Linked DNA regions of Homo sapiens: region 1 is linked to region 2. Evidence: fine-mapped expression QTL. A gene starts in region 2. The other region holds a variant in brackets. All regions are shown on one strand. Distances are between the middles of the regions.

Evidence for each region.
Region 1: its variant is fine-mapped to the expression of PAPPA2 in tibial artery (GTEx, PIP 0.99).

Annotation. Positions count from the first base shown.
Region 1 is chr1:176,499,303-176,510,921 of GRCh38, forward strand. All of the region lies in intron 1 of PAPPA2 (pappalysin 2), which reads left to right. Among named protein-coding and RNA genes, the nearest start is that of PAPPA2, 42 kb to the left of the region's middle. The variant A/C (reference allele first, on the strand shown) is at 5,455.
Region 2 is chr1:176,458,773-176,470,391 of GRCh38, forward strand. It overlaps PAPPA2 (pappalysin 2), which reads left to right and starts at 4,403. Exons shown (of 23, transcript NM_020318.3): 1 at 4,403-4,646.

The DNA of each region.
Region 1 (11,619 bases), 41 kb after region 2:
TAAACTGACTAGAATTTTGGGCTATGTGGCAAGTCATGCCATAGTCTCATTGTAGATAATAATTGCCTTAATCTTTGCATATTCAGAATTCTGCCTCAAACTTATTCCAAAGATCTATAAAACTCTGCCAGGTGGTTTATCACACACATTTTGGGCAAGTGGTTTTTAGCTTATCTTTGGGCCTGGAGACATATATTTAAATGATCTTAGTGAAGAAAAGGGCAGGACTGTTTTGTGTGCTCTGATCTCTACTTCTGTGGAGTGTATTTATGATCTCCTGAGTTTGACTTCTAGCCCAGATCTGGCTTCCAGCTGGGGAGGGGAGACCATGGTGAACAGCTCGATCTACCAGCTCTCCTTCATAATGCTTCCCTCTCCTATACACAGAAAAGGATTCTGAGGCCAGAAAAAAACCATTGCAAGGAGAATTTGCCTAAGGGTTGGTCTTAATCACAGTCTATCATACTTTCTGGACAAGTTGGCTAACCCATGGTTTAATTTACTGGGTGGATAACAACCTTTTGGGGTTGTGAGTAGCTTACTGTCCCTCTCTTAGCTTGTGGTAACTGAACAAAGGCTTGCAACATTTTCCTGGGTCTGAGTCGTGATGTGTCCCTCTGTGTGTATGTATGTATTAGGAGGTCATCATGTTCTTTCAATAATAAATGAGAACAGCCTGCTCTTGGTTTGGAATGTTTACACCCTTTTGCAATTTAATTAGAAATAAGGATTTTAAGATAAATGAGTGTGTGGGTTTACATGGATAATTGTACTCAAATCAAAGGAGAGGTGACATTTGTGAAAATTTTCACATTTAGAAATATGTAAGTACATAAAAAGTTGTGAGGTTTTGTTTACCCTGTAAAAATAAGATACCTTTCTAGATATTTTCTTCCTTTTCCCACATCTCTGAAATTGGAACATTTTCCTATTTACTTTTACAGTTCCATGTATTTTATTTCAAAAATAAGAAAAACAATAAGTTTATAGGTCAAACTAAATTAAACACAGTATATTATTTTGTTCCTAAGCAAAAGGAAAAAGTGACTTTAGATATGGAAAGGCACCAGAAGAAAAAACATTTCAATTTCCTAATATATGCTATTTCTAAAAGCTTTTTTCACTGTAATTGAATTTTAAAAGAAAAGTTAAACCTCTAAATATGTGTACATATTTATATATATACATTTATATATAATTTATTTATACATTTATATATAATTTATTTATATATATTTGTATACATATAAAACTAGTTAACTTAGTTCACATCCTATTTATGAACTCTTTACTGTTTGCAATAACACTTGTAATTTAGGCCTATTTATTTCAAATCTTTTTGAACAGTAACATGAATTCAGAAAATTTCTAGCTAAGATTAGAGGTACATTCTGCAGTCGTGCAATAAGTCAAATACAACCAGTTCCTACTGGCATTAACTTTTGATAATGATTCAATACCAATTTCCCCTAACCTATGTATGTGATAACATAAATCTAAACCATGGTTACTGTTGACGTCATGGCTGACATGTCATTGAGAAGTCATCCGGAGGCAGCTTATTTAAAATATTGACTAATATGTGCTTTACTTTGCTAATAGCCTTAGCAAATTGGTTTTCCTTTACAGTATATTAGTACCCAGAAGGTTGCTAGGTTAGCATTAACTGCGTACTGTCAACCTTACTAGTTTCCAAATGTTAACCATAAAATATGTTTTATTTTATAACATATATAGGCATATACAATATATTAATAAGTATATATAATAGAATATATTAATATTTATAATAGAATAATATGATATATATTATACAATTATATGAAAGAAATAGAAAACCACTGGTAAGACTGACTCCAGAAGTTAAAAGCACAGAAGTAGCAGCATGAAAGCAAATTCCCAGACTTAATGGAAAAGCTTTTTCTAACAGCTTTGTTATCTCTTAAAAGTTAGTGGCTTCTGATAAATATCTCCCTATTTTTTAGTTATCACGTTTAACAATTAGTCTCTATTATTTTGAATGGTAATTACAAAGAAACAAGAAATGACAGGTCTTTGCTATAAAATCTGTTATTACTACAAAATTGATCTAGGTGAAGTTGTCCTGTCCCTCTTTGTCCCCATTTCCGTCCCTCAGGCCACTTTTTTGCAAACCCCAAATTTACATCCTCACTTCTGTCCAAACTGATGAAACATTTAAAAAATCTACAGAAACTTAAAATGGGAGCAAACAAGCTAGTAATGTACTACTGCCCCCTTGGCACTTGTAAGACCTTTTCTCTCTTGCTAAAGTAATTTTCCAGTAAGAAATGGGGAAGCCTTTCTCAAGGTTATGTCAGTGCAAATGGTTGTAGAAGAGCCCAGAGACTCCATTTTATTCTTTGTAATAGTCAGAGAAGAGTGATTGCTTCCTTGACTTTGTGGCCTTGACCATTCCTTAAGTGGCTGAGTAAAAAACAACAACATGTCTCAGAGGAGAGCTTTCTAATGGTTTTCCTGTGGTCCATTGCCCCTGGGGTGCTTCCATCACAGCGAGTCACCGTGGTGATGCCACAGTTTGAGCCTTCCTCTGAACCTTTTGCAATAGTGACACTGATATCATTTATAAAATTAATGCACCCTGGTTCAGTGGCATAGTTGCTAAGAAAAGACAATCTCTTATGGAATACATGAGTGAAAAAACAATGAACATAGACTAACACAAAGAATAACTTCTGATGTAAGTTTTTTATTAAGCCTGGAATAGCTCTTAAGAAATAAGCAGGATTGACACTTCTCATTTAATGTAGGAATGACCTACTAAGCAATGAACAAATCTTGCAAGTTTTGTCATTTACTATCCTCCAGACATCTGATTCAAGACTTGATAGCTGTCTGCACCACCCTTTCAGAATCTAACAAACAATTTGTTTGAAAGCATTGGAATGAGGTGGTGATGCCCCAAACAAGGTTTTTGCCCATATATCTTTAAACTTAAATGATATTAGTGAAGTCTATGTTTGTCATTTGGTGTAGTACAAGTAGCTATAACATAGCTGTGAAGATAGGGATTGAGTTACTTGTATTCTCAGCATTTCTGATGTACTTATTCTATCTAAAACTTTCTTCATTGGGAATGGCTAATGCAATTGATATGATCAATTTTTAATCAGCTTTTCTTAGAAAAAGATTTATTTTGTTGGGTTATACCAAATAAGCTTGTATGTATTATTCTTAATAGTATCCTTACCTGTGTCTTGCTCCACCCTTGAACAACTAGATACTGCATCTGGTCAAACTTTCAAGTAAACAACAATCACTAGGTATGTTTCAGATGGTGGGGCAAGATATTAGGACAACAGTGCAATCTCTCCATATGAAAGGCAAGTAAGTGCTATGGAAGGTGTGCATGGCAAGACTAAGTTGTTTTTCTTTCAAACAACTTACTTCACATCTAATTGAAACATGACCTATTATTGGATCTTCCAAGTTACTTGTGTGTCTTGATTATCAAGAGGACTTCCAACATTTAATTTGTGTGAAGAAAAGGGGTACAACATGATTAGGTGCCTGTAGAGTCCATGTCGTAGGTTTTTCTTCCAGTTAATAAAACCGGTTCATGTCCTGAGTATGATGCACCCAGTAATCTGTATAGTTAAACACTGGGGAATAAACATTGTATTACTTGACTATTGCTGCTGAAATAAATTGCTGCAAATTTCGTGGTTTAAAATGACACAAATATATTACCTTGTAATTCTGCAGGTTAGAAGTTTGGGGTAGGTCTCACTTTTACACTGGGTCAAAATAAAGGTGTCAGAGGGCTATGTTCCTTCTGGAGACTCTAGGAGAGAATCAATTTTTTGCCTACTCCACCATCCAGACACTGTTGACATCCCTTGGCTTGTGAACCTCATCCATCATCAAAGCCCATGGTGACTGGCTGAATCTTTCTTATATTTCATCACTCTGACAGTGATGAAGATGAGGCATCTTCTGCCACTCACTTCCACTTTAGAGAACCCTTTGATTACAGTGAACTCACCTGGATAATACAGGATAGCTTCCCTATTTTAAGATCAGCTGATCAGTAATCTTAATCCCATTTACAATCTTAATTCTCATGTAACATAATTTCTTTCCATAATTTGCCATGTAACACAACATATTTACAGATTCCAGTGATTAGGAAGTAGACATCTTTGGGTGGCCATTCTTCTTTCTCCCACATTAACACAGAAAAATTTTAAGAGATGGTTAATTAGAATCATAAAAAAATTTAAAACATAGCCATAGAGGTAGGTGTGAAATTTCCTGATTCTCACTATAAAACTCAGAACTTCTTAGTTAATATGTTCATTATTCCAGTGTGACATTGACCTTGTTCTTGTGCCATAGCTCCAATATTGTGAAGTGAATTCTGGAGAAAGCAGTGTCTGTTCTTTGTAAGGATTAGGCAGAGGATTGGCTCTTGCCATTCTGGAAAGTCAAGTTCCATGCTCAGAAGGCAGATGTTGCAGAATGCCTCCTCAGATTAGGAATAGTTCATCAGTGGCAATTTTTGTGGGAGAAGAACATAGCAGGAAACAAGTAGTACAAATAAGCATTAAGCTCTGTTTTATTTCTTCTACAAGTGTATCATGAAATAAACATCTCTACAGAAGTGGGATGAAAAAACTCAGCATCAATGTCAGGACATAAGGAAGTCACTTGAAAGTTTTATTTCATGTACATTTTTTCATTAGGTTAATCTCTGGAAACTATGAAGAACTTCCTTAAGTTCATCTTGGTTATGGTCATTCTGTGGTATGGTTCCATATCTTTACCCTCTATGACATACTGTGACACTGCTGGGGGAATTGACTGGCCAATATCAAACTCTTCTGTGTACACTAAGCAGCAATTTTTGAAAAGTCATCAGGAAAAAAATAAATAGCCTTGAAAAAATTTAAACAGTACAAAAGAGTGTATAATATGAATATTTCTCTGAATTTAGACTCCTATATTCTGTTTCAGAGAAACATTTTCCTGCATATTATTTCAGAGGCATCAATTTTCTGTGCATTCTTTTAGAATATTTCTATGCTATACATGCAGATATATAAATATATTCTGTTCTTTACACAAATGAAAGTATGTTATATACACTATTATGTTATCTTCCTTTTGTTCACTTAACTATATTTTCATGGTATCCACATATCAGTAGATATAGATCACTTTTTCGTCTTGCTAATGGCTGTGGTAGTCATTTAAGCACAGACTGTGTTCAGGATGGAGTCCACATTCAAATGCTTAGCTGCGTTCCCTGATGCTGTCTAGTTTTTTCTGTAGGAGCTAATCCAAGACAGAAGATCAGTTGCTGTTAATATTCACAAAATACTGTTTTCTTACATTTCCCCTCTCTTTGGAAAGACTTTATATTCTTGGCTTATTAAAGCAATGGATAGCCATGTGACCTGCTTAGACCAATGC[A/C]ATGTGTCACTTTCAAGGCAAAAGTTGCAAGGGCCATCTCATGGTTTTCCATATCTCTTTTCCTCTACCATAGAACTGTTTATGTCTCAGATGGGTACTACTCCTTCAGATGGATGATGAAATGAAGATAATACGGAACAGAGCTATAATCTACCCATAATGGGTGGGCAGCATAAGTGAGAATAAAACGTAGTTATCTTAAGTAACTGCTATTGGAAGGTTACTTATAACCACAGAATGATCTAGCCCATCCTACCTAATACAGGGAGTTACCTAAGGAACAGTAAAACAGTGTGAAAATCCTTAATAAAACAGTTTTTCCTGTTGTGAAATGGCTTTCTAGTGGCCTTGTCTTTCCTAATTCCTTCCTCCCAAGTTCATTAAATAAAATGACAAAAAACCCGTTAATAAATAACATAACCCAATACTCATTGACATCTGTAGCATTTTCATTCTATTTAATCAATTCTTTCAACCCTTCCAAGGCTATTTTGTCCTCAGATCAAAGTAATCAATGCATTTGTGCTTTAAAAGCAAACAAAAGCACATTTGGGGTCAATGTCTTCTTCTGGTAATCATGGGGTTATTGGGTCCAGATTTCCCCTCCCATTATAAACGACTAAAACAACTGAACAAAGTACATGAGACAACTGTTTTTTGGAGTTTGGAAAACAGGCAGCACAGGACTGTGATTCTTGAAAGTAGAGAAACACGTGAAGTGAGCCATAGATTGACCAACTTTTGCCTGGAGACACTTTCCACTTCTGGTTCAAAGAAGGATTCTCAAGCCAAGTAGGGCAGAATTGCTGAGTTGCAGAGATAGAGACTGGAGTTCACACAATTAGAAAAAATTAGATTGGAGGTTACACAATTAGAAAAAACTATTCTAAAATTCATATGGAACAGCAACAACAACAACAAAAAGCCTGAATAGCCTTTTTACAGGGACAGAGTGAGACTCTGTCTCAAAAAAAACCAAAAAAACAAAAACAAAACACCAAGGTGACTTCAGTTATCAAGATAGAGTATTGGAGAGGAGGGAGTTGCACAGGAAATGAGGTTCAAAAATATCACAGGGATTCTCTTGAGTCTGTTGTTGAATACTTGAACATGCATGCAAAGGAATAAATCTTACAAGACCAGTAAAAAAATGATAAACTGAAGGGTTCCCAGAGCTCACAAAAGGCTGGAAGATACTCAGATTTTAAGCAGTTAGACTGGAGAATTCTTGTTAAGAACTTGGGGCATCTTGGATTAATTTGTGTATATAGTGAAAGATAAGCACCCAATTTCATTCTTCTGTGTGTGGCTAGCCAGTTATCCCAGCACCATTTATTGAATAAGGAGTCCCTTCTCCATTGCTTGTTTTTGTCAGCCTTGTCAAAAATCAGTCAGATGGTTATAAGTGTACAGCTTCATTTCTGAATTTTCTGTTCTGTTCCATTGGTCTGTGTGTCTGTTTTTGTACCAATACCATGCTGTTTTGGTTATTATTGCCTTATAGAATAGTTTGAAGTCAGCTAGTGTGATGCTTCTGGCTCTGTTCTTTTTGCTTAGTATTGCTTTGGCTATTCAGGCTTTTTTTTTTCTTCCATATGAATTTTAGAATAGTTTTTTTCTAATTATGTGAAGAATGACATTGCTAGTTTGACAAAAATAGCACTAAATCCGTAAATTGCTATGGGCAGTATGGCCATTTTAATGATATTGTTTCTTCCAATCCAGGAGCTTGGAATATTTTTCTATTTATTTGTGTCATCTCTGATTTCTTTCAGCAGTGTTTTGTAGTTTTCCTTGTAGAGATCTTTCATTTCCTTTGTTAGCCATATTCCTAGGTATTTTATTTTCTTTGTGGCTATGTAAATGGGATTGTGTGCTTGATTTGACTCTCAGCCTAATCACTATTGGTGTATAGAAATGCTACTAATTTATGTGCATTGATTTTGTATCCTGAAATCTTGCTAAAATCATTCATCAGGGCTAGCAGCCTTTTTGTGTAGTCTTTAGGGTTTTCTAAATAGAGAATCGTATCATCAGTGAAGAAAGATAGTTTGGCTTTGTAAGACCTCAAACTATAAAAATCCTAGAAGAAAAGCTACAAAATGCCCCTCTTGACATTGGTCTTGGCGAGAAATTTTTGGCTAAGTCCCTAAAGGCAATTGCAACCAAAAATTGACAAGTGAGACCTAATTAAACTAAAGAGCTTCTGCACAGCAAAAGAAACTATCAATAGAATAAACAGACAACCTACAGAACGAGAGAAAGTATTTGCAAACTATGCATCCAACAAAGGTTTAATATCCAGAATCTATAGGGAATTTAAACAAATCAACAAGCAAAAATAAATAACCCCATTAAAAAAAGGGCAAAAGACATGAACAGACACTGCTCCAAAGAAGACATACAAGTGGTCAACAAATACATAAAAAATGCTTCATGTCACTAATCATTAGAGAAATACAAATCAAAACAACAATGAGATACCATCTCACAGCAGTCAGAATGACTGTTACTAAAAAGTAAAAAAGTAACAGATGCTAGTAGGGCTGTGGACAAAAGGGAACTCTTCTACACCTTGGTGGGAATGTAAATTAATTCAGCCACTGTGGAAAGCAGTTTGGAGATTTCTTAAAGAACATAAAACAGAACTACCATTTGACCCAACAATCTCATTACTGGGTATATACCTAAAGGAAAATAGATCATTATACCAAAAAGACACCTGCACTTGTATGTTCATCACTGTGTTATTCACAATAGCAAAGACATGGAATCAAGCTTAATGCCCATCAATGATGGAATGGAAGAAAATCTAGTACATATACATCATGGAATACTACACAGCCATAAGAAAGAATGAAATCGTGTCTTTTGCAGCAACATGGATGGAGCTGGAGACCATAATCCTAAACAAATTAATGCAGGAATAGAAAGCTAAATACCATAGGTTCTCACTTATAAGTGGAAGCTAAACATTGAGCCCAATGAACATAAGCAGGGATACAGTAGACATTGTGGACTACTAGAGGAGGGAGGGGAGGGAGGGAGGCATGGGATGAAAAAGTACCTGTTGGGTACTATGCTCACAACCTGAGTGCAATATACCCATGTAACAAACCTGCACATGTACCAACATATCTAAAGTAAAAGTTGAAATTTAAAAAAAATTATATAAAAAGCAGAAAAGCTACCAGAATAAAAAAGTAAAAATCGGAAGAAAAACAAACTAAAAACCCCTAAAAACCTTGGGGCATTTGGTCAAGACCTCAGAGAAGTCATGCCTTCATAGTGGGGCTAAACTATCCTTATAGTAAAGGCTACTCAACAGACTTTATAAAGCTTAAAAACAATCTTCAAAAAGATCAAGCTGATCTTCCAGTAATGTAATTGTTTACCAGAACAAAGTGTAGCACTCTTTAAAGAAAGACTACGAAATCCATCATTCAAAACATAAAATTAACCAAATGTGGCATTCCGTAAAATTACTAATCATGTGAAAACAGGAAAATATGATTCCATATCCAGTAAAATAAATCAGTCGGTAGAAACATACTCAAAATGACAGAGGTGAAAGAATTAGCAAACAACAATTTAAAAACAGCTATTGTAAATATGCATAATTATTTAAAGAAAAATATGAACACTGAGGATAAAAATGACATATAGAGAAAAACATAAATCATAAATTCTAATTCTGAAAAATAAAATATCTTGAATGAAAAATCACTGCATGGAATTAATAGCCAATTAGACAATGTAGAAGAAAAAATGGGGAACTTGAAAACATAAATGAAAACTATCCAAAATGAAGTATATATAGGAAAAAAAGTAAAAAAAAAAATAATGAATAGAGTCTCAATGACAATGATATGGTGTGGCTCTGTGTTCCCACCCAAGTCTCATATCAAATTGTCATCCTCACATGTTGGGGGAGTGACCTCGTGGGAAATGATTGAATCATGGGGGTGGATTTCTCCCTTGCTGTTCTCATGATAGTGAGTGAGTTCTTATGAGATCATTTTGTTTAAAAGTGTAACACTGTCCCCCTTCACCCTCTCCCTCCTGCTGCCATGGAATATGTGCCTTGCTTCCCCATCATCTTCTGCCATGATCATAAGTGTCCTGAGGCTTCCTCAGCCATGTGGAACTGTGAATCAATTAGACCTTTTTTTTAAAAATAAATTACTCAGTCTCAGGTAGTTCTTTATAGCAGTGTGAAAACGGACTAATACAATGGCTTTTGGAAAAATTTCAAGCAGTCTGACATATATATATGTTAGATGAAATATAATATGTATAATTAGAGTTTATTATATCTAATATATAAGTAGAGAATATGTGATGCACTATTTAATCAGAGGTCAGATGAGAAGTGGCTCACTATCATGAGAACAGCAAGGGAGAAATCCACCCCCATGATTCAATCATTTCCCACGAGGTCACTCCCCCAACATGTGAGGATGACAATTTGATATGAGACTTGGGTGGGAACACAGAGCCACACCATATCATCTAACATATATATATGTCAGACTGCTTGAAATTTTTCCAAAAGCCATTGTATTAGTCCGTTTTCACACTGCTATAAAGAACTACCTGAGACTGAGTAATTTATTTTTTAAAAAAAAGGTCTAATTGATTCACAGCTCCACATGGCTGAGGAAGCCTCAGGACACTTATGATCATGGCAGAAGATGATGGCGAAGCAAGGCACATATTCCATGGCAGCAGGAGGGAGAGGGTGAAGGGGGACAGTGTTACACTTTTAAACAAAATGATCTCATAAGAACTCACTCACTATCATGAGAACAGCAAGGGAGAAATCCACCCCCATGATTCAATCATTTCCCACGAGGTCGCTCCCCCAACATGTGAGGATGAAATTAGAGAATATGTAATGTATATTTAATTAGAGTTTCAGAAGAATGGAGGGGGACAGAAAAATATATGCAGGAATATGACTTTGCTGGGCATGGTGAATCACACCTATAATCCCAGCACTTTGGGAGACCGAGGCTGGCAGATTGCTTGAGCCTGGAAATTTGAGAACAGCCTGGGCAATATGGCAAAACCCCGTTTCTACAAAAAACAAAACAAACAAACAAAAAAAAACAACAAAAAAAACACATTAGCTGGGCATGGTGACGTGTGCCTGTAGTCCCAGCTACTTGGGAGGCTGAGGCAGGAAGATCGCCTGAGCCAGGGAGGTTGAGACTGCCATGAGTTGTGATCATGCCACTGCACTCCAGCCTGGGTGACAGAGTGAGAACCTGTCTCAAAAACAACGACAAATAAACCCCAAAAACAAAAAATAAGAAAAAGAAATATGGCTGAAATTTTTCAAATTTGATGAAAACTATAAGCTCACATATTTGAGAAGTACAAGGCATTTCAAGCAGGCTAAACACAAAGACAAATATACTAAGACACATCATAACAAAATTTGTAAAAACTGATAGTATAAAGAAAATTTTAAAAAGCAGATAGGGGTGGGGAACATGTTATGAACAGAGCAACAAAGATAAGAATTATCATCGTTTTCTCACCTGAGCCTATTTAAACCAGAAGACAATGTAACACCATCTTTAAAGTACTGAAACTAAAGCAAACAGAACAGAACAAGAAAATTAAATTAACAAAAACCTTCTGTTAAACTAGAATGCCATATCAAATGAACATTTCTTTTAAAAGTGGAGTTTAAATAATGGCTTTTCAAAGAAAAGTTGAAAGAACTTGTATTTATGAGATCTGAACTACAAGAAATGTTATAAGACATTCTTGAGGAAGAAATTAGAGCTACATACAGACATAAAGAACCCTACAAATTGTAAATATATGAATAAATAAAAAATTTTACTTAAGATTTTTTTCAAAAGATAACTGAAGCAAAAACGGCAGTCGTTTTATAGTTTATAATACATACAGATAAAAATATATAATAGTACAAAGAATGGGAAGGAGAAAATGGAAGAATATCACTGTAAGTAATATAATAGCACTGAAGGTAGACTGAGATAAGCTAAAATGTATATTTTAAAATTTAAAGCAACACATACACACACACACACACACACACACACACACACACACACATACCCCAAAAATGAAAAAACAGAGGGAGAGCTAATAAGCCAGAGATAAAACCCAATTATAAAAACATTTAAT
Region 2 (11,619 bases):
ATTATGGTTATACGATGTAGAGGCCATTTAGTTTTGTCAATCTACAGGATTTCTTATAATATGAATCCCTCACACTTAGAATAGAACCTTGCTCTCCAAAGTTGCCTGGAAATTTTTAAATATTAACTCTTCATCTCCCAGAGTGATTTTCTGAAGGAAGTTTTATCCTCAAAGGAAGGAAAGAGATTGTTTTAATAGACAAATTGAGTTATGGAGTAGATATTTATTTTACCCTGGTTGGTGGAACCTCCAAGAACTTCAATATTCTGTGACAGCCAAAAGGAATTCTTCTGTTCTTCTTGCTAAACTCTGATGTTATTTTTTTTCTCTCTCTCTTTTGTCTTCTCTTTTGGCTTCTGTTTGTCTTTAGCCATCCCCTACCTATGCTTAAAAATTATTAATCTGATAGTTATTGGTGATCTGATATTTACTTTCCATCCACCACCCTTTGTATTGAGATGGGAAAGTTCCCTTGACCCCCTTGTGGGACTTGTGACAAAGGTGGCTCATTTACTCAGCCATCAAGCTCAAACCCCTTGCAGGAGGGGGAGCACACAGGTGAGTGAGTTCAGGAGCAAGGGCTAGTGCCAACAGGAATGAACCCTGTACCATCCCATGGCAGCATCTAGGGGTTGTCTGTGACCTCTGGAGCCCCAAAGGGGCATGTGTTATAATCAGTGATCTTTTAGCTTTTGCTGTCCATGGATGGCTAAGTGTTAAACAGCTCAGTGGAGAGTCAGTGTGACAGCCTCTTGCACCTGCATCCAGATCCTTGTCTGGTGCCCAAGAGCAATGAGATCACACAGACTTGAAGGATGGTGAATGCAGAGATTTTATTGCATGGTAGAAGTGGCTCTCAGCAGGATGGGGAGCTGGAAAGGGGATGGAATGGGAAGATAATTTTCCCCTGGAATTCAGCTGTCGCCAGCCAAACTCCTCTCTGATCATCCCCGCCCAAATTCCTCTCCAATGTTCAGCTGCCTCTTTTCCTCTTGATGTTCAGACACCGTTTCTCTTCTCTCCTCTGCCACACTGCTCTGCTCCTCTGCCAGTGGAGCTTGGGGTTTTTATGGGTAGAGGATGGGGGGGGGTGTGGCAGGTTAGGGTGTTTTGGAAAAAGCAACATTTGGGAGGGAAAATAGGAATGCATGTTCTCATTTAGGGCTGTGGGTCCAGGCTTGAGGGTGGAGCCCTCACCAAGAATCCTACCCTTTTCTACCCCGTGTTTCCCTGCCTCCTGTCCATATCAATATCCACTGGCTAATGACCTGGTGCCTCCCCCAACCCTCTTTATGTCTCCCATGTTCCCCCACTTTTTTTTTGTTTGTTTTACCTTTCTAGCCCATCATTTCTGACATTCTCTACTTCCCCTGTTAATACCTGTGTTGAGTTCCATTGCCCAGGGCTCTGCCAGGTGATTGACTGTATTAGACAATTTGTAGCAAACCTGTTGATAGCCTACAAGTGGCTCAGGGGCTTCCCCCTGTCTGATAACATTTGCATTTTCATTGGGGATTTCAATGTCAAAAAGGTCAGTTGGGGATTCCTACACCTTGGCAGGCTTTACTCTTGATTTTTCTCCCCATCTGGCTGCCCATTGAGCCATGTTTAGAGCGGCATCTGCTCTCAGGTCATGGCTGCTGCAAGCTGGTTGGACTTATCGCTGTCTTATTCCAGTGCTTTTTCAGTTAACATGGTGTTTTTCAATCTATTCTAAAAGCAAAGGGCACAGGAAAAGACAGTAGGCAGAGGCAAGGAAACATTGCAAATTGGATAAAGAGCCAGGCCACTGGGCTGAGGTATTCTGTCTGTGGAAAGGCCCATTGGGTACCAATGGTATTGCTGTCCATTAAAGAAAATCCATAGGCTTTTTAAAAATGCATTTTCACCTTAATATAGCAGGAACAGCCACTCTGCCATGCAATTCCTGAGGATTTATGGCTGGCTGGGGTTAATGGTTTGAGGTGTTATTCTTTTCTGTGCCTCATTAATCCCCAGGAAGTGCCTGTGCTGAGATGGTTATTCAGCTCAGTTGGGCTCCAGAGGCACCAGTGTTCCCCACTCCACCTCCAAAGTGGCTGCAGGGGCCAGGCCACAGGAGCTCTCAGCTCTGACACAGGCTCTGTCTGGACCACCGTGTCCCTCAGAGCCTGGGTTAGTGACTCCACAAATGGCATTATGAATCCTAGGTGAGTCCTAGGTAAGTTTTGGCAGCCATTTTTCTTGGTTACTGGCATTGTTGATATGACTCTATGGCTTCCCCCTTTATCCTTTACCACAGAAAATTTGAAAAAGACACAGTTGGCCTCGTCTGAGAAGGAGAAGTGTGAGTGCAATGCTCCTTATCCACAGATGACAGAAGGGACTGATCCACTGATGGGGCAGAACTGATAACAGGACAGAGTCTTTAAGCAGCACAAGGTGCTTTCTGATGATCACAATGTATTGCATTTTGGTTGGGGGAATTCTAACTTTTTGGAGACATTAGTGTTTATAAAATATTCTCCTATACCTTTCTGTCCCACCTTCCTCCCTTCTACAAATATTAATTGAGCACTTACTAAGGTACCAGTATAGATATTGAGGACACAACCATGAACAAGAGGAACAAGGCTCCTGTCTTCAGGTTTTTGACATTTAAGTTTGCTTGAGGTCTGTGTGTGTGAAGGCCAGAAAATAAACATATAAACATTTAATCTTTTAACAAACCCATGGCTCAGGCAGAATAGGTGTACCCATATCTATTTCATAAATAAGAGACCTGAAACTTTGGAGAGGTCAATGATCTTTTCAGGTTAGCCAGTTTGTGCATTCATTAGCTTATCTATCAGACAGATTTACCAACACCAGTCATCTCTCAGCTCATCTCCTAGACTTTTGAGTTATAAAGATGACTAGGGTATGGGTCCTGCCTTCCAAGGCTCACAATACAGTGGTAAAGCAGCCACACAGACAAAAATATTCTAATCTGATAACTGCTATAATGGGACCTTTGCTTGCAAAATAGGGGCTTGAAAGAAGCATCTGCCTGAGGGAGACAATCAAGGTCAGCCACAAGTCTAAGGCTGGGAGAACGTGCTCAATAACACTTGTTGGATTGAATTGAGTCAGCTATTCAAGGCTGGCTTCACTATCTGGTTTAAAAAGTGTCCCCAGGACATCAGAATCATATATTCAAATAAAGCAAAAATAATCTCATTCCAAACCAAAATAGAAATTGTTTGTTCCACTTTTGGTCAGGCTTCCTGCTTTTATGTGATTAATTAAAAACAGGGTAGCCACTAAGCTGCAATATAAATGACAAATTATTTATGTCTTATTTATTAATGTAAAAATGCCCAGAAATTCCTCCTAGAGTCTGTTTCATCCACCCTCATCCTTCCTGTATACCTCCCTACCTCCATTAGTCTGGCTGTAATTGAGAAATACTTACACCTAGCCTCAACCATAGCAATGTAGAAAGAGCCATTAAACTAAACTCAGGAAACCTGGGTTTTTGTCCCGGGCCTGTGATTAGCTAAAATTCTGACCATGGGTAAGTAACTTCAGCTTTTTTTCCCCCTTTATTTTCCTTTCCTTTCCTTTCATTTCCTTTCCCTTCCTTTCCTTTCCTTTCTCTATCTCCCTCTATTTCTTTCTTTCTTTTTTTTTTTGATACAGGGTTTTGCTCTGTCTTCCAGGCTGGAGTGCAGTGGTATGATCAAATCTCTGCAGGCTTGATCTCTGAGGCTCAAGCAATCTTCCCACTTCAGCCCTTCTTAGTAGTTGGGACCACAAGCATGCACCACTACACCTGGTTAATTTTTAAATTTTTTGTAGAGATGGGCCCTCCTTATGTGGCCCAGGTTGGTCTTGAACTCAAGTGATTCTCCTGTCTCAACCTTCCAAAGTGCTGGAATTATAGGCATGAGCCACTGTGCCTGGCCTCACTTAACCTCTTGATGTTTCAGTTTCCTAAATTATAAACTGAGATTGAATACTTGTCCTATCTTACATCACATGTTCTTGTAAGGACCAAGTGGTAATACTGGGTGGTAGCTGGAGAATGGAGCAGTTAGCAGTTTCACATGACTAGCAAAAGGAAATTGTTGAAATAGCTGCATAAACTAGGGGCTGATAAGATCCTGAAAACCAGATGTAGGCTAAGCTGGCTAAGACCAACTGGACCCAAAATGGTGCTGGATTTGACATGGGTTTCACCTATAACCTCATTATATGTTCATTAACTTACTAAATCACACACCCACCAGTGCCGTGATAGTCCGGGAACACCCAAATTGGTGTAAAAATGGGTGGTACCACAGTTCCAGGAAATGTTCACCTTTTCCCAGGAATCTTCATGAATATTCCACCTCTTAGTTAAAGAAACTCATAAAGATGGAAACCCTGAACCCCACTGGGCATGACTCTCTCTCTTGAGTAGGCACACACTCCCTTTTCTCGGGTGTGTACTTTTTGCTTTGTGATACATCTCTGCACTTTCAGTATTTTCCAACTCATCCTTAAATTCCTTCTCACAACAGTGTCAAGAGCCTGGACGCCAGCCAGGATTGAGGTCCTACGGGTGTTTGGGGACCTCCCCAAGCCCACGAGTATCAATGGCAGTATCAATTGTCTGTGACAGTGATTAAGGAGCAAAACACTTGGTATGTATTGGGGGTGTCACTACTATTACCATAGCATGTCTGCTGACTGAACAAGATGCTGGACGTTTGCTAACTTGGCTTGTGCAGGGGGGTGTTAGACTTCTTGTATTCTTTTGGCATCAGAGGGCTGGGACGCAGCCCTGTAAGCGGGGATGAGCATCTCCCTTTAGCATCATTGTTCCCATCCAAGGGTCAGGCTCCCACTTAATGGCTCAGTTTCTCCAGTCTAATAACTTGTAACAAATTGTCTCATTTTTCTTTGATAAGTGACAACCTTTGGCTGCCTGGTCTTCTTTTAGGCTGCAACTGCTTCTGTGAGCTGGCAACTCCAGTTCTCCTGGGCCTCATCCAGGCCTGTGCAGGGAGACCATGGAGGGGATTAGGATGAGGGTTATTCACATCCTCTGCAGACACCTTCTCATGTTCAGTGTCTGCTTGGCTGGCATTAAAGGCAGAGGGAGTGCTGAGGATGAGTGTGTGTGGGGTGCAGGAAGGAAAGGATGGGTAAGGAGAGTTCTATTGCTAAGCTTAGGGTTATGAGAGGAAAAGTAGGTTGAGGCAAAAGCAGTGAGGGAGGATATAATTGAGCCAAATATCTTATTGGAACAGACAGAAGTGATAATATTTATTTCTTCTATAGATGCACTGATCATGTTGTCCAGATCAAAAATAGAAACTGTGGACTATGATCTAACAGATACATTTTTGAGGACAACAGGACAGTGTAGTTTGAATATAAACTCTCTGGGAAAATTCTGGAACAGTGATTTCTTATGCCTATGACCTCATACTCTCCCATAATTTCTTCTTCTTCTTTTAAAAATTTAACCTCTAGGAGTACAGAACACTCCCATAATTTCAAATCTTGCTGAGTCTAGTTTTGCCATTGGGCACAGTTGAGAAGTCTGTTTGTATTTATTCTATCTACTCATTCTTTCTTTCCTTTCAACAAGTATTTATTGAGCACCTACAATGTATGGCCCACTTCATGGGTGTGGGATCTCTGTAGTCACACAGGGCCCTACACTTAGGAGGGCCCTGTGCTTGGTTCAATGCACTGTTAACATCTTGAAATTTGTAATATTTCTCAAACAAGAAGTTCTGAATTTTTATTTTGCACCAGGCCTTGTAAATTATGTTTCTGGTCCAGATGAGGTACGATATTGGGTGTTGAGGATACAAAGATGAAAAGATATAGCTTTTTCCCAAACTCTCTCTAGCTGCCACCAGCTCTTTGCTTAGGAAATACCCCAGGTGCTGGACATGGCTCTCCGCATAGTTATCTGCTAAACACTGCCTTAGCTACCTGGGAGTTTGAAGAGTTTCTTCTTAACTAGTTCACTGTAAAGCATTCCAAATCATATAAATAGTTTTTTAATTATAAAAATAATAGAAGTTACTGTAGAAAGTTAGAACTATGCAGAAAAATTTGAAGAAGAAACTATAAAACAATCCATAATCCCAATATCCATATGCAGTGGTTATCACCGGATAGGTGGCTGGATAGTGGTTATTGCTGGATAGGTGTTTTCACTTTGAATTATTCATATTTATATTTTTAAATAAAAGTAGGATTCTAATACACGTATAATTTTATAATCTTGCATTTTCACTTAAAATTGCATATTTGCTATTTCCCAAGACATAAAATAATTTCCAAAACATGGTGTTCTGTGTTTGTTGCATTCTGACATGTGGATGTGCCATGATATATTTTCTTCCTTCCCATTTTTTGGGGTACATCTAAGTTGTTTTCAACTTTTTGCTGTGGTAAATGCTACTTGGATGAGCATCCCTATATATAAATCTTTGTCTGCTTCTTTGGTTATTTTCTTAGGATACACTTCAAAAAGCAAGATGACTAGTTAAAAGTGTATGGAGAGGCATGACACACATGCAAATCATTTCCAGAAGACTGCAACAACTTATACTCTCACCAGTAGTGAATGGGAGACCCTATTTCACAGGTCTCCCTATACTGGCTATTTTTTATTTTTCAAAGTGGTTGTCCAAGTTGACAGGTGACAACGTTTATTTGATTACTTGTTAGATTAGACGCATTTTTTCCTATATTTATTGGGCACATATATCACCTGTTTTTTCTTCAAAGGCTGCAAAAACTCTGAAATTTAATTCATACTTCAATATTTAATACAAAGTTACCTTTTTTATTGTTTCTTTTCTACTGTAACCTCATGCCTATCCTGACCCAGGCCATTCTTTTTTTTTTTTTTTAACTTTTAAGTTCAGGAGTACATGTGCAGGTTTGTTATATAGGTAAACTTGTGTCATGGGTTTTTTTTTGCATAGGTTATTTCATCACACAGGTATTAAGCCTAGTACCCATTAGTTATTTTTCCTGATCCTCTCCCTCCTGCCACTCTCCACCTTCCGGTAGGCCCCAGTGTGTGTTGTTCCCCTCTATGTGTCATGTGTTCTCATCATTTAGCTTCCTTTTGCGAGAACATGTGGTATCTGGTTTTCTGTTCCTGTATATCATTTTTTTTATAAGTTGTCTTATCAGACTTTTTGTTCATTCTCCTATCAGAGTGCTCCACTTTTTCTTAGTTATCTATAAATTAGTTATCTATTAAATGTCTTAGGTTTTAAAAAATGTATTAGGCAACATGCAGAATTAGGTCTAAGTGACAGATAATACATGCGTGTTTAACATGTTATCTCTGCTGAAGGGTATTACCTTTAATAATTCTTCAAACTTGAAGAATTATTTTCTATATAAAAACTTCATATAGAAGCTTAATGAGGTCCTATATGGGAATGAATTATTGCAAAGAAAATGAAATTCCTGTAATTGGAAAAATTGCTGCAAAGGCCAAATGAACATCGGCCAAGCTACTGTGGAAGGATTCTTGTGCTAGGCAAGAGGTTGGACTGAGTGAGTAATGTCCAATCATTTTTGATTCTCTTTCTATAATTCTAATGATAAAATTTCAAGCACCATCATCTGATTGGCTAGGGTCCTTCCAATTCTAATTTATGAGTAGTTACCTCCAGGTACATTCAGGCCTCCCTGGGTCAAGTAAGTTATCATATTAAATATTAATATTAGTATATTATGTGAGATGAAAAGAGATTAAGTTTCAAATGGTATGATAAAGAGGAACCATACTTACATATTACAGGGAGTCAGAAAAGAAGGAATCTGATGAGTGCTTTAGAAATCAGGGAAGGTCTCATGGAGAGAGTGAGCCTTGAATGAATCAGAGTCTGTGCAGCAGAGAGAGGTATGAAGGCTTTCTAGGTGCAGAGAACAACAATGTGGTTTGCCATGGGCTATGAACCCCACCTAGGGGTGGCCCTGTGTATCTGTCGCAGCACAGACCGAAGGCCAAATCAGTGCAAAAGGGGATTTGTCATCTTGGAAAGCCAAAAATTCCCTGCAACGTGGAGGGAGAAAAAGAGTTTCCAGAGCCAAGGGCAACTTCCCTCTGGACTCCACAGTGAAATTCTGGTGTTAGGCTCACCTGTTTTGCATAGAAATCCTAAATTGTATTTTGTAGCTCTGAGACCATATGGGAGGTCCAACCCTTCTGCGAAACAGTCATGTATCGCTTAATGATGGAAATATGTTCTGAGAAATGCATCGTTAGGTGATTTCATGGTCATGTGAACATCACAGGGTGCAGTTACACAAACCTACACTGTATAGTCTACTATATACCTAGGCTTTATGGCATAGCCTACCGAGCCTACAAACCTGTATAACATGTTACTGTACTGAATACTGTGGCAGTTGCAACACAATGACATTTGTGTATCTAAACACCTCCAAACATAGAAAAAGAATAGTAAAAATATAATATTATAATCTTATGGGACCACTGTTGTTTATGCAGTCCGTTGTTGACAGAAACGTTATGTGGCACATGATTGTAAGTTCAAGCAAGCTGAGGAGCTTTTCTCCTCCTTTTCTTTTCAGTTGTTTTTCTCTGAGTTTTTATTCTCATTGTTAGAAGTGTTGGCATGTTGCATTTGTTGGAAACAGAGAATAGCACTTGCCTTGTGGGAGGTCAGCTTCAGCTTCCCCATCTGAACTTTGAGAAGCTGCTTTCACATTAGGAAGACTCTATGTAACAAGGATGGGTTCTGGGGCAAGGAAGAGAGTCTTGTCACCTCAGCTGTTTGTTGAATCAGGGGCAGTGGATGCCTCATTTATTCAGTTGACAGCGCCAGGTGCTAGTGACTATAAGGTGATGGGTTCAATTCACAGTGGAGCCAGCTAACTTCACTCTGTTTCACAAATGGTCCCAAGTTATGCTTCCTATCTGTCAGTTTATAAGGTCACTAATTTGGGGAGCTAGGTTTGGCACTTCAGTACAAACCACTTTCTCAATTGGGTCTCATAACTGAGATGCTAGACACATAATTGGTACTTCACGAATCCATTTGATGAGTATTTGTGGAGCCACTACAATGTACCAGGAACTGTGTTAGGTGCTGAAAATGCAGATTAAATCAAGACACTCTCTGTACAGTGGATTTGATAAATAGATGAAGAATAGCATTTGTGTGCAGAAACCTAAGAGGGGCTGGCTGGGGAGAGTAAGAGGCAGTAAAGGGTGTGAGATCAAGGGTGACCATTATAAAGTGGACAAAATGCAATAGACAGGGACCATCCAAAAAGGAGCACTATTTCAAAACTCCATTTATCTCAAGGTTTGTGGATTCAAGTAGCTTAGTTTTGCTGAATTCACATTTGGACTATGTGAGTAAGCACCAGAGAGGAAGGTGATGTTTAACACGGGCCTCTGAGATTCTTCCATCCTGGATGTCTCTGGGCTCTGACATTCCTCCCTCAAAATCCTTTTCATGGGAGAGCTTCAGACTGAGTTTTTCCTTTGTACTCAGTTAAGGGCTTTGTTGATGTGGGAAGAGCATTTGGGTGTTTAACCAGCACCAGGAAAAGCAAATCTGCTTATTAGGTCCACCCAAAACTAGGGAGGGGGTATCAGTTTGGAAGGCAGCCACATCAATCAACTGAGCAAATTCACATTGCCAACTCTTTATGGATACCTTTCCAGGTATATGGTCCCATCTCTTCTCTATTCCTCCTAGCTAAGTGCTGGCAAAGTGGTCAGGGAGGTTCACTCACCTAGATCAGCTCTAGCCCTCCTGCATGTGAGGTGGGCATGGAAAGAATCAGGGGGTTCAGAGGCAGGTGTGAGTGCAGCATCTTCTGCACAGGGCCCTCTCTGTGTACCCTCATGCCCCCTCATCTTTCATGTGAAGGCACACATTGATTTTAAAAGCTGCTAGTCATTGGTCACAGGGGTTGACTTGGCCACTTAGGTACCTATCTCCTTTCCCCCTCTTGCTTCCTGGTGTGCCCTTTCTCAAGAAGAGTTTCCCTGACAGAGGAATGTTGATCCATGCTAAGATTTCTCTTTGTTCTTTGGGACATATATCCTTTAAAAAGTTTTGTCTCAATAAATAAGAATACTATGTTTATGGAGCATATACTACCTGTCTGGTACTGTTTTTGGCAATTCAAATGCATCATTTCATTAAACACTCACCAGATGTTAGTAACTTGTAAGAGCTGGTAGGTGGAAGAATCAGGATTCAAGCCTGGAATTTCCAACTTCAAGCTCTGTTGCTAACTGCCATCCTATCCTGCCTCCAAATATTTGCAATGCTTTCATACACTCAGTCGCTTGCATGGTGGCAGCCAACGTGAAAGGAAGAGCATTGGTCTCAATAACTAACATTTTTTGCTGCTTCAATTTCCTTGATAAGCCCAAGTCTTTTGTGTAAGAAAATACTTTTCCTTCTTCAGGTCTTTGTGGCTTTCTCTTAAGCCTAATTGTTGGAAAAATACTTTTCTGCCAGAAAAAACAGTTTCTGATCACTCTGTGGTACCTATTAAATGCACTAGTCCCTTCTTCTCTCCCTCACCTTGCTTTCTCTTCTGTTTCTGGGAGAGGGAGTGGGTGGGGTGCCACTGAACATGAAATCCAGGCACACGCTATAACACACACACCCCTCTAGTACCCCACCAACATGCCTGTGAGTGGAACATGGAAAACGGCCCAGGATTAACAGCACCATGGGAAGAAATGGGGACCGCAGCTTGGGTGATGCCTTGGGAAGTGCTTGTCGTCCTTCAGAATTAAGTGAGCAGTTGCATACTTTTCATCCAGCTGGGGAGAACAGCTCCCACTAGAAAAGGCAAAGCAACCTGACTGTGGTATTTACTGGCAACTGGCCTCAGTGACTGCTTTTGATAACATCCACTGGGCCAAAGTTCTGGATTGTTTTATAGCAAGACTCTGCTCTCACCTCCCAGACACAGGAAGGTCTGAGACATTTCACACCCCTGCTCCCTCCTTAGGGGTCCACAGCAGTTGTCATCTGGGATGCGTCAGACACTTCACCACAGCCCACAGTACACATTCCAGGGCCACAAGCACGTGGTTCCCTGAGCTCTTTGCTCACTCTAACGTGTGAAATGTGTATTGTGGGCTGAAATGTGTACTGCTGGCCATTGGTTCCCATTCCATGTTGATACTCCTTACATGCCTCTGCAGAGGAAGCTGCCAACAACTTGGTAGGGATTTTTATGGGGTCGAGGAAGGGACTTTGCCTTCCAAAATACTGTCCAGAAAACATGATGGAATTTCTGTAACAGGAAACAAAATGTTCAGTTAAGTCTCCAAATGCAAATAATAACAGAAATTCACACTAATATGTCAATAAAAATCACCTGCCTCCATCTCCAAGCAAGAAGGTTCACAGTGGTGAAGGTCCAGGGTTTACTGGTGGGGCTCACTCACACAATCACAGAATTAAGCCAAGAACTCTGGACATTGAGAATAAGCAACTTGGGCTAACTCTCTTTTTCCCCTGGTGGGCATCTATTTTCAGCTATTTCTCTGCTTTTCAGAGGCCACATTGACAAAAAGGTAAGAATTCTCACCTCTGTCTTCACCTCAATGGACAGTTGTGTAAAACA